Homo sapiens: one gene and its partners. The protein of the gene in region 3 purifies or fractionates together with the protein of the main gene of each other region. This does not show direct contact. Each region holds a gene or a part of one and is shown on either strand. Other genes may lie near its edges. The genes, in order: RPF2, PAK1IP1 and RRP15.

Region 1 (3,654 bases), on a different chromosome or scaffold from region 3:
AAGAACCACAATTACAGCATGTCATTAACTCTTTAATAAACATAGAATCTGCTTAAGAGTTTTTTGTTTTTTGTTTTTTCAGCGCCCTCACTCTGTTGCCCAGGCTGGAGTGCAGTGGCACAATCATGGCTCACTGCAACTTCCACCTCCCAGGTTCAAGCGATTTTTGTGCCTCAGCCTTCTGAGCAGCTGGAACTACAGGCATGTGCCACCACGCTGGGCTAATTTTTCTGGTTTTTTTTAGTAGAGATGGGGTTTCGTCATGTTGGCCAGGCTGGTTTTGAACTCCTGGCCTCAAGTGATCTGCCTGCCTCAGCCTCCCAAAGTGCTGAGATTACAGGTGTGAGCCACCATGCTCGGCCTGCTTAAGATTTATATTTATATTGTGGTAGGGGTAGAAGGCCTAGGCTAGAGAGACAGAGTGAAATGAATCTAGCCACTGAATCTTCTTATTCCTTTTAGACTCAATTGTTAAGACTTAGGGTTTTGAGATTTGCTTTGCCTAGCCAAGGATTTGTGGCTTAGTGCTGTAAATCCAACCAAGAACAATAAAGAGATGCTGCATAAAGCTAGGAAGGGTTGGTGCACCTGGCTCAGCGACAGTGCAGCATCAGATGCTCTGGGGCACTGGAAAAGTAGGGTTTCAGAGGCAAAGGACTGAGGATCAGCACAGAGCTGCTGTCACTGCTATCCTGCCAACTCTCCAAGAAACCTTTTGGCCAGATACCAATTCTAAGTTTGGGCTCTAAAAAACAGTCACACAGTTTTAAACACTAACCCTGAGGATTAAGAAAATATGTGAAGAAATGCACTTACTTATAGCTTCGAAAGTAAATCTTCCCATTCAGTGCAGTGAAGTGCAGAACATACTCTAATCCAGCCAGGCGGATATTTGATACTGTGGGGCCTCTGAAGAAATCTAAAAGCACATATTAAATTATTAACAAAACAAAACAAATACTTGCAAAATTCAGTTACAAAGAACTGCACTCTAAACAGTTTTGCTCCAATACTTATCTAAAAAAGCACAAAAAATGATTCCTGAAAAATGTCTGAAGGTCCCACCCCTTAAGCATTTAATCTCATGACTTTATTTTGGTATTTTGGTGTTCAGTTCACTGAGACATTTAATGTTTCTGTTTTGAAGTTCTTCCTCTGAGTCAGCTCAGCATCAAAAAATCATATCCATTAAAAATACTAACTTTTAAAAAATGTAAATCAAAGCATAAAATTTTAATCTACTGGTAGATGAAGATAGCAAATTTCTATAAAAATGGCTGTTCAAATTGACTATTAAAATCAAATTAGCCTTAATTTTTTTTTCTATGAGGGAGGCCAACAAGAAAAAAACTCTAATAAGAAATCTTGATTATATGAACAAAGGATAAGAAACTTTATAAACTGTTAATGCCAGAAAAGAACCTTGCATATCAGTGATAGTCTTTTTTCTCACAAAGTGGTAATCATACCACCGGTGGCACATGAGAGCATTTTAATGATACAAAGCCAGATATAATTTACTACGTATTTATTTTATCCTGTACCATTCTCCATTTACAATAGGGACATAAAATTTCCTTTTAAAAAGAGTAGTCAGCCATGCACAGTGGCTCATGCCTGTCATCCCAGCACTTTGGGAGACTGAGGCGGGCGAATTGCTTAAGCTCAGGAGTTTGAGGCCAGGCTGGGCAACATGGTGAAACCTCATCTCCACTAAAAGTATAAAAAATTAGCCAGGTTGTAGTCCCAGCTACTGGAGAGGCTAAGGTGGGAGGATTGCTGATCCCACCACTGGACTCAGTGAGAACGACAGAGCAAAACCCTGTCTCAAACAATAACTTAAAAAGAGGAGTCAATTAAAAGAAAATCTCCAGTGAACTGCACGCTAAGGATACTACACAGACTTGGCTATGAAAGAAGTTTGGAAAACAAGTGTGATATCTTAATTTTACAGCTGAGAAAATCGAACCTCAAGGAGGCTAAATGGAAATTCATGAATAACATTTGGCTAAGATAAAAGGTCTATATAAAAGTTTATCCAAGTTTGCTTAGGAAGAGCTGCCCAAGGCAGGTGATGTAGTAAGTGGGAAATTCTGTTCTAGTCCCATTCTGTAGCCACCTAGCATTTTCCTTCCTGCTTCCCATTAGCCCATAAGATGCAGATTATCTCCATGTGCACAGATGAACGCATCTTTTGTTGTCTGCTTTTCCTTTCTTGTGCTTAACCAAAAGAAAATCACAGGCCAGGTGCAGTGGCTCATGCCTGTAATCCCAGCACTTTGGGAGGCCGAGGCGAGCAGATCATGAGGTCAGGAGATCAAGACCATAGGGGCTAACACAGTGAAACCCTATCTCTACTAAAACCACAAAAAATTAGCCAGGTGTGGTGGCAAGTGCCTCCCTAGCTACTTGGGAGGCTGAGGCAGGAGAATCACTTGAACCTGGGAGGCGGAGATTGCAGTGAGCCGAGATTGCGCCACTGTACTCCAGCCTGGGCGACAGTGTGAGACTCAGTCTCAAAAAAAAAAAAACCCAAAAAACAAAAAACACAGCATTAACTTGTATAAAACAAACACAAGTGGGCAGGCACATTTATACACCACCCTCCTCTACTCCCCCAAACAAGAAAAAAAAAAAACTAATGAACATTTTTAATTTAAAAAAAGTACATATACTACATATATTTATACATATATTATGTACGGATGGGGTCTCACTATGTTGCCCAGGCTGGTTTCGAACTCCTAGACTCAAGCACTCCTCCTGCCTTGGTCTCTCAAAGTGCTGGGATTACAGGTTTGAGCCACCACGCCTGGCCTGGGACATTTTTATAAAACAAGTTTGTACTTTTCAAGATATTTTAATCTAAATATCATAATAAAGAGCTTTCCCATGATTTTGCCAAAGCCTGACTCTCCTTCAGTGGCCAAGTTAATAAAGCTCACTCATTGGTGTGGCATTACTGAAGTCAGAGTACTTCTGGGAAACGAAATATGTACATTCCAGTCTGCTCTGAAACAACTTTCATAATGCAAAATTTTCAGGACATCTGTGCTTTGGGAGAAAACTTTAGGAACACAATAAGCACATGGAAAAGTACTCTTTATTAAGTCAAAATTTCTAAGACTATGAATATAAAAGGATTTTCAGTCTGTATCCAATAGTTCTAACCAGCCATCCTTTTATTACAACATTTTCTCTTAACTGCCAAACTGAAATTTCACTAAAGTTTGCAAATCATCAAGGTAACACAAACAAGTAATGAATGAAAACGGGAGGGCATAAATGGTAGTACTTAGTAACCGGAAAGCAAATATGTCTAACAGCATGATATTTTCTGGCTAGAACACAACAGAGTATTGTTTACACATGAATACCATTGGCAAGAATCCATTCACTTAATAAATTGTACCAGAGCACCTATTATGCAAAGTGATAAATGACATATAGCATTTTTCTATCAGGGGCCCTGCATTCTAGGTAGATATGAATACATACAAACAACTGCAATTTAAAGTAGCACATTAAAAGGAGAACAGTATAAACCATTCTGGAAGTTCTGAGGAGAGAAAGATCATTTCTAGTTGGGAAAGACGTCATGCAAGTGGTATATACACTGTTAGGATTTTGACCAAGAAGTATGATAAATAACTT
Region 2 (3,654 bases), on a different chromosome or scaffold from region 3:
GCGTGAGCTACTGCTCCCGGCCCACTTTTGCATTATTAAATGCCAGGAAGATAACATCTTCCACCACCTTATTAGACTACAGATACCATATACTGTACATGTAGATATGTCTGATTATTTCTGCAGTTGTTAATAAAAACATATAACCTGGCTTATGAAACTACTGCATATATACCTTTTATTAAGACTAGACATATACACCAAAGATTGGTAAAAATACCTGTTTTCATGAGCTTTAAATTCGCAGAGGCACACTAGTGAATCACAGTCAAAAAACCTTATAACTTCTTCATCTCCAGCCACTGCAAGGACAGACTCCTAGGAGAGAGGAAAAAGAGTAATAACATCCAGAATGTCATCAACAGTTCCAACCATCACCACAAACTTTGGTCAATGATTTCTGATTACTTACTGAAAGAAATTTAACAGAGGAAATTCTCTTTTCATTTGTGATGGTGCCACTAATGGATGCAGTGTCAAGCTGATAGATGTCTATTTTATTCTGTATGATAACTACATACTGCTCTCCTCTTGGGGACCATTCTACTATGTGAGCATCTGTAAGTGGAAAAAAACGAAGTTTATTTATTTTGTAAATAAAACATAAAATGATCATAGTAATAAAAATAGCAAATATTTATACTGTGCATTTTCAAATTCATTATCCTATTTCATCTTCGTAACACATTTTACAAGTCAAGTTTTTTAGAAAATAATCTAGGTTCAAAAAGTCAAAGGTGGGCCAGGTGCAGTGGCTCACACCTGTAATGCCAGCACTTTGGGAGGCCAAGGTGGGTGGATCACTTAAGGCCAGGAGTTTGAGACCAGCCTGGCAAACATGGTGAAACCCCATCTCTCTACCAAAAAATACAAAAAATTAGCCAAGCATGGTGGCACGCGCCTGTAATCCCAGCTGCTTGGGAGGGTGAGGCAGGAGAATAACGAACTCAGAAGGCAGAGGTTGTAGGGAGCTGAGATAGCGCCACTGCACTCCAGCCTGGGTGATAGAGCGAGACTCCATCTCAAAAAATAAAATAAAATAAAAAATATAAAATAAAATAAAATGAAACAAAATAAAAATCAAAGGCAGGTGGCAGAGCCACAAAAAGAATCTAGTCTAAAATGGGAAAAGAAAGTAACCCAAGGCATTTGCTCAGAGGTAACCACCACCATGCAGGGAAATAAATGTGTAACATACACACATGTAAAAATGTATATCTATATTCATATTCCATTAAGTCACTGTAAAATATACAGGTTGAGTATCCCTTATCCAAAATGCTTGGGACCAGAACGATTTTGGATTTTGGAATATCTGCATATATACAATGAAATATCTCGAGGATAAAACCCATGCAACTCATGTTTCAAGTCTAAACATGAAATTCATCTATGCTTCATATACACCTAGCCGGAAGGTAATTTTACACAATATTTTAAATAATTTTGTGTATGAAACAAGGTTCTGACTGTGACCCATCATGAGGTAAGGTGTTGAATTTTCTACTTGAGGCACCACATCAGTGCTCAAAAAGTTTCAGATTTTGGAGCATTTCAGATTTCCAGATTAGGAATGCTCAACCTGCATTTCAAACAAAAATACTCACTTTGTTTTATATTTTTTATGAATGCTGATCTTCCTTCTACAAGATTCCACGTTCTGCAAAACAGGAAGCTCACTTACGGTGTGATCACCAACTAACTTTTACTAAGCGTAAAAGAACAAGCATAATGAAGACTTAAGTGACATTTTACTAAATATTGGCTATTTAGAAGACCTGCTATCTTCCTTACAGCAATATTTTGAAATATTATGAGGCAGGATTAAGACTTGCTTCATTCCCATATCCCTTTAACATCTCGTATCCATTGTATTTTCAAAAGGTTTCCCTTTCTAAAATCTTCAATTCACAGCTATGATGACTGCAGCATAATTGCATGTTTGAAAACGGAGCTTGTTGGCTGGGCGTGGTGGCTCACGCCTGTAATCCCAGCACTTTCGGAGGCTGAGGCGGGCGGATCATGAGGTCAGGAGATCAAGACCATCCTGGCTAACACGGTGAAACCCCGTCTCTACTAAAAATACAAAAAATAGCCGGGCGTGGTGGTGGGCGCCTGTAGTTCCAGCTACTTGGGAGGCTGAGGCAGGAGAATGGCATGAACCTGGGAGGCGGAGCTTGCAGTGAGCCAAGATCACGCCGCCGCACTCCAGCCTGGGCGACAGAGCAGGGAGACAGAGCGAGACTCTGTCTCAAAAAAAAAAGAAAGAAAACAGAGCTTGTCATTTTCATTCTACCACTATGAACCACTATGAAAAGGTTCACCAGCTTTTGACCTTTCCCTTGTATAACAGTATTTTTAGATGGTGGAGAGCTGTAGTAAAACACACACCTTAGATAAATGCTCTTGAGCATTAATGACTTACCTTAAAGTTTTATCTGTACCAACCGACAGGGCCAACTTGCCAGATGGGTGAATAGAAAGGAAGGTCACCTGTCCTCTATAATGAAACCAAAAGTTAGTCCCCAACTTGACTGGCACATCGAGAATGCCAAAGGGAAAGAGCCCGACTCACTTGTGAGCTTTAATTGACTTCAGGCATTCCCATTTCTTTGCATCCCAGATACAGATGAGTCCATCTTCCGCTCCACTGATTAAATGCCTGTTGCCATAGAATTTCAGGCAAGTTATTGTACCTATGGAAAAACCAAAATAGGCAAAAATAATATTCATTTTAAATGCAAACTCCATTTCTGATTTGAAGGCTATGCTATGCTAAGTAAAACACTCAATACCTTTTTTTCTTTTTCTTTTTTTTTTTTTTGAGGCAGGGTTTCACTCTTGTTACCCAGGCTGAAGTGCTATGGCATGATCTTATCCCACTGCAACCTCTGCCTCCTGGGTTCAAGCAATCTTCCCACCTCAGCCTCCTGAGTAACTGGGACTACAGGTGCACATCAATATACCTAGCTAATTTTTGTATTTTTTGTAGATACAGTGTTTCACCATGCCATGTTGCCCAGGCTGGTCTTGAACTCCTGGGCCCAAGTGATCTGCCCACCTCAGCCTCCCAAAGTGCTGGGATTACAGGTGTGAGCCACTGTGCCTGGCCTCAATGTCTTAATATTACTAAAACATACCTTAAATTTTTTCATGTAAGTACAGTTGTTCAAATCTATGCAAATATTTTCAGCAGAGTATCTCCAGTTTAGATACAGATTTGAACAAATCAGTTCACGTCCTTGCTTTATGTCTTCAAATTATAAATTTAGGAGGTGGCTGGCTAGGATAGTTTGAGCAGAAGTAAACAAAACTAATCAGCTAACAAGCTAATCTGGGGAACAAACCAGGTGTACTGCCACATGACTTCCACTTTCTAAACAGTGAATTAGCTACCCAATCAGCCACAATCCAATCCTTATCACTCAGATCTGTTTTGATCCATTTCCACACACTTCTCATTCATTTGTTCATATTTTCCTCTCCCTATTATCCTATTTCTCACTTTGGAAAGTTTGGTTTCCCACATTTGCTTCCCTAGAAAAAAGCTTATCTATTAGCAACTCTTAGAAAAATAGGATTTATGCACCCATAAAAAGGAATGAGATCATGTCCTTTGCAGGGATGTGGATGGAGTTGGAAGCCATTATCCCC
Region 3 (3,654 bases):
GGCAACAGACCAAGACTTTGTCTTAAAAAAAAAGGGGGTGGGGAGTGGGGGGCCAGCCGCGGTGGCTCACGCCTGTAATCCCAACACTTTGGGAGACCAAGGTGGGTGTATCATGAGGTCAAGAGATCCAGACTATCCTGGCCAACATGTTGAAACCCCGTCTCTACTAAAAATACAAAAATTAGCCGGGCGTGGTGGCACGTGCCTGTAGTACCAGCTACTCGGAAGGCTGAGGCAGAAGAATTGCTTGAACCTGGGAGGCGGAGGTTGTGGTGAACCGAGATAGCACCACTGTACTCCAGCCTGGCAACAGAACGAGACTCCATCTCAAAAAAAAAAAAAAAAAAAAAAGGAAAATTCAATGATTTCTTTCTTTTTTTTTTCCTTTTTCTTTAATCTCAGAGTTTTGTTTTTAAAATTTATTTATTCATTTTTGAGACAGAGTCTCACTCTGTCAGCCAGGCTGGAGTGCAGTGGCACAATCTTGGCCCACTGCAACCTCTGCCTCCCAGGTTCAAGTGATTCTTATGCCTTAGCCTCACAAGTAGCTGGCACTACAGGCATACACCACCATGTTGGGCTAATTTTTTGTATATTTTTTTTTTGGTAGAGATGGGTTTTGCCATGTTAGCCAGGCTGGTCTCAAATTCCTGACTTTAAGTGATCTGCCCACCTTGGCCTCCCAAAGTGCTGGGATTACAGGTGTGAGCCACCATGTCCAGTCTAAATTTTTTATTTTTTGGGACAGGGTCATGCTGTGTCACCCAGGCTGGAGTACAGTGGCACAGTCACAGCTCACTGCAGTCTCGAACTCCCAGGCTCAAGCAACCCTCCCACCTTAGCCTCCCAAGTAGCTGGGATTACAGGCACACGGCACACACCACCATATCCAGCTAGTTTTTTCCATTTTTTTTGTAGTGACGGGGTCTCACTATGTTGCCTAGGCTGGCCTCAGACTCCTGGGTTCAAGCAATCCTCCCACCTCAGCCTCCAAAGTGCTGAGATTACAGATGTATGCCCCCCGCATGTGGCCAAGGAAAATCAAACACTTTCTTTCTGAAAACCATTTCAAGTGGAGCTCTTCTTTGTCTTCAAACAAAAACACACATAAGGCTGGGAGCAGTGGCTCATGCCTGTAATCCCAGCACTTTGGGAGGCCAAGGCAGGCAGATCAATTGAGCTCATGAGTTCAAGACCAGTCTGAGCAACATGGCAAAACCTCATCTCTTCCAAAAATACAAAAATCAGCCAGGTGTGGGTAGTGTACGCCTATAGTCCCAGCTAATCCAGAGGCTGAGGTGGGAGGATGGCTTGAGCCTAACAGGCAGAGGTTGCAGTGAGCCAAGATTGCACCACTGCACTCCAGCAGCCTGGGTAATAGAGCCAGATCTTGTTTCAGAAAACAAAAACAAAAACAAACAAACAAACAAAAAACCCAAAAAAAATCCACATAAGACAAGGTTATGTATTGATAAAATGACAAAAATGTTCTGACCAGAGGCTCACAGGAGCCTAAAACTGTATTTCCTCTAGAAGCAATGGTTCACTAATTCAGGGATTCAGGGTTTCCTGCAACTTTACTGAACATTACTGTAACTAGAATCAACTGCGAATTCACAAATTGAGAGTAAGTATTTATAAACATTTATAGTAATTTGATATTACCATGATGTCCAACAATGTGGTCATGTTTCCAGTTACTCTTTTTCATTGATTTTTTTTAAAAAAAACACCTGTCTATTACAGATTGGAGATTAAAAAACAAAACTCAGAATGGTCCTTCAACATTGATGGTTAAAGAAGCAATTGCCTAGAAGACTGAAGGGAGTAAGGCTGCAATGACAGGCCCAACAGATAGGTACCCTATGAACTAATGTAAACAAAAGAGATGCAGGCAAGGCCAGGCACAGTGGCTCATGCCTGTAATCCCAGCACTTTGGGAGGCCAAGGTGGGTGGATCACCTGAGGTCAGGAGTTCAAGACCAGCCTGACCAACATGGAGAAACTCTGTCTCTACTAAAAATACAAAATTAGCTGGGTGTGGTGGTGCATGCCTGTAATCCCAGCTACTTGGGAGGCTGAGGCAGAAGAATCACTTGAACCCTGGAGGTGGAGGTTGGGGTGACCTGAGATCATACCATTGCACTCCAGCCTGGGCAACAAGAGCAAAACTCCATCTCAAAAAAGAGAGAGAGAGAGATGCGGGCAAGAACTAAAGTAGTGGCAACAGAATAAATGGATTAATTAAACCAAATAGATATGGAAGCAACAGGAAGACTAAAGGATGACACTTGTGTTTCCAGCTTGGATGGGAGTAGATGGCAGTGTCTTTCTTAGAGACAGAAGCAGCTTTGGCAAAGAAAATGTGTCTATGGCATAACCAAGCAGACACAATCAATTGTTATCAACATCGTTATCACTGATCTTGAATTTTACCAAAAATATATGATCTAATGGTTAGATTATGGAATAAAACGAGTGGAATAACAGATAACATCTTGCACCTATGGAGGTAACAGTTTTCTACTAGGAAGCAATATGATATACTGGAAGCACTATTTCCAAGCTTCTTTTCTTATCTGTAAAATAGAAATGCCATCAGCTACCTTACAGGGTTACTAGAATAATTCAAACCTCTTTTCTGGGGAGAGCTCCAGCTTACAAATACCACATTACCAAAGGTGGGAAAACTTATTTGGCAAAAAGAGATGGGACTAGCAGTTTTTTTAGGTCAGAAGAGACATCATCGTCATCACTAATATTTATGAGTGGGTACCATGTGCCAAATATTAAATGCTTACCATATATAAACTCATTTAATTGTTACAACAATCCTAAAGTAGACATTATTATTATCCTCATTTTGTAGATGAGGAAATTGGGGTAGATAATAATAACTAGCACAAAGTCACTCTGAAAGGTAGTACCATCACAGGTGCCTCTTATACAATTGAGTGAACAGGGGAATTTGCTTCCAGAAATAACATATGGATTTTAGGAGAAAGGAAGGAAGGAAAGAATACTCTGGTTATAAACATTGGAAGTGCTATAGAAATCTGAACACAAAAATGTCCCTTGGTGATGAAATCTTCTTGAGTGGGAGGGAGAAAAGTTTGTCTCCATACCAAAGTCTCCTTGTCCCCAATCCTTTCTTTCCTTAGATTCAAAGGCCCAACGCTTTCACTTTCCAGATACTTTTTAAAATTATCTATGTCCTCCTGATTCCTCAAACATATTAAGGTAGTGGTCAAGAGCATAAGCTCTACAATCAAACTTCAATAATTGTTGTATCATTTATCAACTTGCTTATCTGCTTATGTACAGAAGTGGGCAAGTTATAAGCCTCTGTGCCTCAGTTTTTTAAATGTAACAGGAGGATAATAGCAGCATCTATCTCATAGAGTTGTCAGAATTCTCTGAGCTGATATATAGAAGGAACTCAGAACAGAACCAGGCACATAGGAAAGTTCCAAAAGTATAACTATTGTTATTATCCAATTCCTCTAACAGTGTAGTATGCCCAAAACCTATGGTGCTATAAGCTCACATGAAAGTTGCCTGTTTGCAAAATTGAATACTTTCTTTTTGAAAAATATTTCAAGTGGGGCCCTTCTCTGTCTTCACTGCTGTGTCCTAGTGCAGATCCTAACATAG

Evidence for each region.
Region 1: the proteins of RRP15 (region 3) and RPF2 fractionate together in Homo sapiens (co-fractionation; one large-scale study listed by BioGRID). This does not show direct contact.
Region 2: the proteins of RRP15 (region 3) and PAK1IP1 fractionate together in Homo sapiens (co-fractionation; one large-scale study listed by BioGRID). This does not show direct contact.

Annotation. Positions count from the first base shown.
Region 1 is NC_000006.12:111,013,019-111,016,672, reverse strand, and holds part of RPF2 (ribosome production factor 2 homolog), read right to left. Parts: exon of another isoform or gene 3,085-3,654; intron 920-3,084; coding exon 817-919; intron 1-816. UniProt on the Homo sapiens protein: Involved in ribosomal large subunit assembly. May regulate the localization of the 5S RNP/5S ribonucleoprotein particle to the nucleolus.
Region 2 is NC_000006.12:10,701,411-10,705,064, reverse strand, and holds part of PAK1IP1 (p21-activated protein kinase-interacting protein 1), read right to left. Parts: intron 2,697-3,654; coding exon 2,576-2,696; intron 2,501-2,575; coding exon 2,426-2,500; intron 1,661-2,425; coding exon 1,608-1,660; intron 559-1,607; coding exon 413-558; intron 319-412; coding exon 221-318; intron 1-220. UniProt on the Homo sapiens protein: Negatively regulates the PAK1 kinase. PAK1 is a member of the PAK kinase family, which has been shown to play a positive role in the regulation of signaling pathways involving MAPK8 and RELA.
Region 3 is NC_000001.11:218,288,226-218,291,879, reverse strand, and holds part of RRP15 (RRP15-like protein), read right to left. Parts: intron 1-3,654.